Linked DNA regions of Homo sapiens. The protein of the gene in region 1 purifies or fractionates together with the protein of each later gene. This does not show direct contact. Each region holds a gene or a part of one and is shown on either strand. Other genes may lie near its edges.

Evidence for each region. Proteins that work in one complex are often made in the same cells at the same time.
Region 2: the proteins of SLC26A5 (region 1) and NAA20 purify together in Homo sapiens (affinity purification with mass spectrometry; one large-scale study listed by BioGRID and IntAct). This does not show direct contact.

Annotation. Positions count from the first base shown.
Region 1 is NC_000007.14:103,408,166-103,411,822, forward strand, and holds part of SLC26A5 (prestin), read right to left. Parts: intron 3,422-3,657; coding exon 3,255-3,421; intron 2,385-3,254; coding exon 2,220-2,384; intron 1-2,219. UniProt on the Homo sapiens protein: Voltage-sensitive motor protein that drives outer hair cell (OHC) electromotility (eM) and participates in sound amplification in the hearing organ.
Region 2 is NC_000020.11:20,030,602-20,034,155, reverse strand, and holds the end of NAA20 (N-alpha-acetyltransferase 20), read right to left. Parts: intron 1,649-3,554; coding exon 1,503-1,648; intron 1,055-1,502; coding exon 969-1,054; 3' UTR 501-968; downstream 1-500. UniProt on the Homo sapiens protein: Catalytic subunit of the NatB complex which catalyzes acetylation of the N-terminal methionine residues of peptides beginning with Met-Asp, Met-Glu, Met-Asn and Met-Gln. Proteins with cell cycle functions are overrepresented in the pool of NatB substrates.

The sequences.
Region 1 (3,657 bases):
GCATTTTTACCCAGTCTACAACTTTATAGTTGTTACTCTTTTCTTTTTATAGTTGTTATTTATTTATTTATTTATTTTTGAGACACAGTCTTGCTCTGTTGCCCAGGCTGCAGTGCAGTGGCATGATCTTGGCTCACTGCAACCTCTGCCTCCCAGGTTCAAGCAATTCTCCTGCCTCAGCCTCCTGAGTAGCTGGGATTACAGGTGCCTGCCGCCACACCCAGCTAATTTTTGTATTTTTAGTAGACACGGAGTTTCACCATGTTGGTCAGGCTGGTCTCGAACTCCTGACCTCAAGTCATCTGCCTGCCTCGGCCTCCCAAAGTTCTGGGATTACAGGTGTGAGCCACTGTGCCCAGCCTTATAGTTATTCTTATCAAACAATTATTCTTATCATATGCTGATGTCTCAATGTAATATTATAAAATCCAGAAAAGGAACCCTGAAGCTGAGTCCTGAGCAATTGGAAAGAATTAAGGGTTGATAGCAAAGTACTCCAAAGGTAAATACATTGAAAAGCTTTTAGGAGCTCAAAGAGAGAGAAATTATTGTTAGCAGGACTTTGAAGTCAAGAGTGCTGATGTTTGGGAAAGGAACCTAGGAGAACTAGAGAACAAATCCACTTAATTATATCCTAGGGTTACCAACTGGGCACCTCAAATATAGTCAGTTCTCATTTGAAACCCAATAAAGTAGACTTCCCACTCAGCCCACAACATGCACCCTTTCCTATCGATGCCTAGAGTACTCAGTATGTTTTATTTCCTTTGTGACAAGGCATTTCGACAAGTCTCAGAGTAAGAAGTATGATAATAGCTATTATGGGAAACTAAGAATTTTGTTATTTAGAGAATATTCCTAAAGCCTGATTCCATTTTTATCAGTCAGGGACTCAACTTAAATGTCAAAGTGCCTTTCCTAGACCCCTAATCTAAAGGTCTCCCTATTTAACTTTCAGAGCAGCTGGTACTTCTTCTTCATAGCACTCAACACAAATTGTAATTGACTACACATGTATGCGATTAATGGTTTACAATCTTCCCACTGTACTGAAAGCTCCAGAGGGCAAGGCCTGTATCTTCTTAGCTCACAGCTGCATCTTGGCACCTAGCAGTGTCTGGCACATAAATACCTACAAAGGCAACAGGCCTCTCTTTTCAAGGATAGCTTTAACAGCATCTCAGAGGTTTTGATATGTAGTACTTCTACTGTCAATTAATTCTAATTATTTCCTAATTCCCTCTTTATTCATGGGTCATTTAGAAATGTTTTTTGGTTTCTAAATATATGGGAGTTTTAAAGCTATGTTTAGTTTTTGATTTTTTTATTATATTGCACTGTGTGAAAAAACATTGAATTTTTAGAATTTGTGATCAGTTTCACATGATCGATTTCAACATGATCAGTTATTACCATTGTTCCTTAAGTGCTTGCAAATAATTTATATTTTCTCTGTGTTTGGTAAGGGGTCTATATAATTAAAAGATTCATGTTAGTTAAATCTTTTATAGCCTTACTTATTTTTTGCCAGTTTGAACTAGCAGGTTTTGTTTTTTTTTTGAGACAGAGTCTTGCTCTGTCGCTCAGGCTGGAGTGCAGTGATGGGATCTCGGGTCACTACAAGCTCCACCTCCCGGGTTCACGCCATTCTCCTGTCTCAGCCTCCTGAGTAGCTGGGATCACAGGTGCCCGCCACCACACCTGGCTAATTTTTTTCTATTTTTAGTAGAGACGGGGTTTCACTTGTTAGCCAGGATAGTCTCGATCTCCTGACCTCGTGATCCGCCCATCTAGCCCTTTCAAAGTGCTGGGATTACAGGCATAAGCCACCACGCCCGGCCTTAATTAGCAGTTTTTGAGAGAGAAATGTTCTACCTTCATGCCTTTAAATTATTTGTTAGTTTCCAAAAAGATCATGATTTAGTTGTAAGAAAAAGCTCTCTCTTTACCTAGAGTGATGGTGCAGTCACCAAATAAAGACCTAGCAAAAAATTCCTTGTGAAGTAGGCAGTATCACATATTAATAACAGAGATTTTAAGGTTTAGTTCTCTTTGTAACACTCTTTTCAGAAAACCTTAGAATAAATGAATTTTTCCCTTTTTATGGAAATTACTGGAGAAAAAGAAAAATGAGTCTTGAAAGTAAAAAGAGATACAGAAGAGAAGGTTGGGGGGAATAAAGAGAAAAGTACCAGAACGTCAGGTAGTTTCTTACTTACATACACCACGGAAAAGATTCCACTGTACCGCTTTGTTTTAACTCCAAACAGATATTTTAACATGGAGGTGAAGACATGCACAGCTGCTGCGGTGGTAAACCCACGGACCAGAGGCTCTGTGAGATATATGGCCACAAATCCAAACCTACAGACACCTAGGCAAAACTATTTTTTTTTAATGACAAAGAAACAAATGAATCACATGATAGGTCAGGAAGTTATGACCCACAGCAAATATACAAGTTCTTTCTTGACCATTTTCTTTTTTTTTTGAGATGGAGTCTTGCTCTGTCACCCAGGCAGTGGCACAGTCTCAGCTCACTGCAACCTCTGCCTCCCGGGTTCAAGCGATTCTCCTGCCTCAGCCTCCTGAGTAGCTGGGACTAAAGGTGTGTGCCACCATGTCCGGCTAATTTTTGTATTTTTAGTAGACACGGGGTTTCACTATGTTGCCCAGGGTGGTCTCGAACTCCTGACCTTGTGATTCGCCTGCCTCAGCCTCCCAAAGTGCTGGGATTAAAGGTGTGAGCCACCGCGCCCAGCCTCTGGACCATTTTCTAACACTGCAAACTTGTACCTCAAGTGGGTAAGTAGCTAGAAAATCAACCACTGGTTATACAGAAAACAATGGAAGGTCTGGAGTGGCTTGGTGCCCCACAGTGCGCTGACCACACTAATGCCTTCCCTGTCTCTCATTGAGCTGGGGGCATGCTTCATCATGTAGACTAAAGTGCATGATCATGATCACTGGCTGTTTCTTCCAAGCAGAGAGGAATGTCCTCTCCCAGCACTAACCAATCCTGCCGTGTCAAACTTGTCTTGCTTTTGGGATCTTTAAAACACCCACCTGAAGCTTGCTTGCTCGTCACTCATAGTTGTGAATATGGCATGCAGTTGGTCTGCAGTTACTCCCAGAGCTCTGGGGTTTTTCTGGCTGACCCCATCCACCGTGTAGTAAGACCAGCCAAGAGCACTCAGTAGATACTTGTTAGGTTAACAAACGAGACAGTCCATTTCCCCATCTTTGAGCCTTACCTGAATGATTCCTGAAAGTAAGGTCACAGACATGGCGACTTTCACTCTCAAGGCATCTCTGGCCTCTGTGCCATTGGTTGCATTTACTCCTCCTGGAATGACTATATCATCTGGTACTAATCGAACAGCTACACCACCAATCATCAGGCTAATAACAGCAAAAGGACCTGAAATAATGAAGCATGAAGATCCCTGTTCAGGGTTCAGAGTATCTGATATGGTTTTTGCCAGTACACCAAGAGACAAAGGTGAGGTCAAGAAATCATGCTTGAAGGAAGGCTACGCTCCCTTCTTTAGTGTCCTGCCCCTGGTGTATGAGCAACCGTGTGTGTGCGTGTGTGCGCATGCAGACTGTATTTTCCAAAAATAGACATAGCAATATCTTCCATCCACAGAGTCTTCT
Region 2 (3,554 bases), on another chromosome or scaffold:
CAGGATTTAAGCAAAGCATTGTGAAGAGGAGAAAAGATCTAGGACTAACAAACAAACAGTATAATGGTATGAACGCAGGTGACTGGGAAGAATTTACTACACGATAAGAAGGGAGCTTCTTAAGTATGCTGGACAGTGATTGCTTCAAGTGTGCATTTTTAAAATACTACGTATGGAAGTCACAATTTAATTAAACGTATCTTAAATGATGATGACCTTTCACAATCCTGATTTTTTTTTTTTTTTTTTTTCTTGAGGCAGGGTCTTACTCTGTTGCCCGGGCTGGAGTGCAGTGGGACGATCTCAGCTCACTGCAACCTCCACCTCCAGGGTTCAAGCAATTCTTGTGCTTCAGCTTCTGCATAGCTGGGATGCCCAGCTAATTTTTGTATTTTTTTTAGTATAGATTTTGGCCAGGCTGGTCTCAAACTCCTGACCTCAAGCAATCAGCCTGCCTTGGCCTCCCAAAGTACTGGGATTACAATCTGATTTAGTTTTACAAATGACTAACAAACTTCAGAAAACATTCATAGAGTCAATAATGTATTATACATCTTAGATTTATACATTTCATATATGCTTTTAAAGCTTCAATTAACAGTTCAATACAAAATTTAAAAACAAATATATGCAGCAGTGGTTCTCAGGCACAGAACTGAGGAGGAGACTGGAGCAAGTCTTTTCCCTAGCATACATACAGTGAATACTATGAACCATGAGAGTGGTATGTTTCCTTCTGACCTAGCTGCCTTTTTGATTGAATTTTGTTACAATGAACAGCTTTAATAGGTATGATATTGCTAACTGGAAACAATGAGATTTAAAATAAATTGATAACCTGTATTTTCTTGAAGTCTTTAAGACCTAAAATGATTACTTTTCTCCTAATAGAGCTCCAGAATCATCCAATGAAAATAATATTGTCCATAAAGCATCTAGAGTATCTGCCTAAGAACCACTGCCCAGGGTTATTCAATGTCTTCAGGCCTCACAGGATGAGGTAATGGTATGATGGATTTCTTCTCAGTATCCCTGGAAAGTGCTTTCCTCATATCTGTAAAGAAGCAAAGTTTAATATAAACACCCAAAAAATGTATTATATCAAATGTAAAGTGTATAGGTAAAGTTCCCATAAGAGGTTTTATCCCTACCCCCACTTCACCATATTCTAAGCAAAATGTATTTATAAATGTCTCCCAATTGCCAAGTGTACCAGATGCTAACCAGACCTCACCCAGTATTCAGCTCACAATACACGTTTTCTTGTTAGCAAAATAATATGTATGTAACAGAGTGAAACAGTAAGGTACAGAAATTAACCATTGGTTAGTTAATAGGTAAGTTAATTACTACTACTAATAGGTTGATAAAGGTAGGTTGAGGGAAATTTAAATTTTAAAGTCAAATATTCTACATTTATTAAAATAATCAAATACTACAATCTGTAGAAAGAATGTAACTGTTTCGACTTCTTGGGGATACTGCCATGGAAGGGAGCTTACCATAAGCGTCCTCATCAGGCTCCCCGTTGCTGGCCGAATAGTACTCTATGACCGTCCTATATACACTGTAGCCCAACTGCTTGTACATGTTAACTGCAACTTGGTTAGATACTCTTACAAAGAGATCCACAAAAAATCCACCCTTTCTTTAAAAGAAAAACAAAAAAGGAAAATGTTAGAATGTGAGAAACCCTAGAAAGTAATAGATACATATTTTTTTTAAAACGTGTTTTTACCTTGCTTTGACTACTACTCAGAATGGTAGTAATAGGACCTTGTAGCTGATTACATGGTAATAGAAATTTGTATTACTTAGGATTTATGACAATTACTTTGCAGTGTAAGAACATGACTTTATGTTTGCATGCTAGTATTTCAAAAGCAACACGTTTTCTTAAAAGATAAACTCAAGGCATTTGTTCTACAAATTCACCACCTATTACAGTTTCTCCTGTTTATGAAGTTTATATACATGGAATCATATATTCTTTTGTCTTTTGCTTCTCTCAGTCGACTAACATTGTAAGAGTCAGCTTCAAGAGTGGCTGGGCTTGTGCACAAGTCATTCACGGTCCTGTTGATACGTTTCTGGCTTTTACTATACAAACGATGCTCCTGTGAATACTTCTGTTGAGTGTCTCACGTAAGGTCTATAGCTAGGAGTCTCACTGTTGTGTCACAGGGCACATCTTCATTAGTTAATACCAAACTGTTTTTCCAACTGGCTTGTACCAACTTACTCTTGCACAGAAGTGAGTAAGCCTCCATTCCACAGCAACAAGGCTTGGTGCATCACATGTTTTTATTTTTGCCAATCTTACAGTGTAACTATATCTCAGATTTTAATTTGTATTTCCAATTACTAACAATGCTGAATATATTTCTGTTGGTTGGCCATTTAGATTTCTCCTTCTGTATAGTACTTAAATCTTTCATACAATTTTTCCCCCGCTACAGTTCTCTATGTATTGTGAATATTCAATACTGTGTAATGTCTGCAAGTATCTTTTTCCAATTTGTGGTTTGTCTTGTCATTATCCTTATGTTATCTTTTGATAAAAAGTTACTTCACTTCAGTGAAGCTGAATATATGAATCCTTTCCTTAGCCTTTTTATGGCCTTTTTAAAAAGTTCTACACTGAGGCCACAGAGACACTCTGCCATATTATATTCAAAAGACTTCTTAGTTTTGGTTTCACATCTAGGTTTTTAATAAATCTGGAGTTGATTTGTGTATGGAATAATGGTAATCTGGGAAATTTTTTTTTCCCATAGGGACATCCAATTGTCCAACCACCTTTACTGAAAAGTCTATCTTCATACTATTGATGTGCAATGCCTCTTCTGTGGTATGTTAAAGTCCATATATTCTTGGGTCTGTTTCTCAAATTCTGTAACACTGGTCTAGATAACTACAGCACTAAGATATAGTCTCACTCTTTACAGTCTGATACCTGGAGGGGCACATCACCCATTTTTGTTGTTGTTCAAGAATATCTTGTCTCTTTTTTGCTCTTTCTGTTCCTCTGTATGTTTCAGAGTCAGCTTAACAAGTACTATAAAAAATGCTTGGGATTTTGACTGCAATTACATTGGAACTGCGGTCGATTACCTGTTTACTGTATCCTCTAATCCAGTGATAGTTTATCGCTCCACTTATCAGGGCTACTTTAATATCTCTCAAAAAAGTTTTTTAAATGTCAGAGAGGTCTTGCATAGCACTTGCTAGATTCTTAAGTACTTAATGTTTTTTCATGCTATGGCATCTTTTTCTAAATTTTACTGTTTATATATATATAAATACAATTGATTTTTATACTGACTTTCTATCCAACAACCTTGCCTACCTTTTATTAATTCTAAACATTTATTTCTAGATTCTTGTGGATTTTATATTTGTATAATCATATCTGTGCAAAATAAGTAAGTTTTGTTTCCTCTCATATGTAAATACAATTGATTTTTATACTGACTTTATATCCAACAACTTTGCCTTTTATTAATTCTAAATATTTATATTCTTATGGATTTTATATTTATATAATCATATCT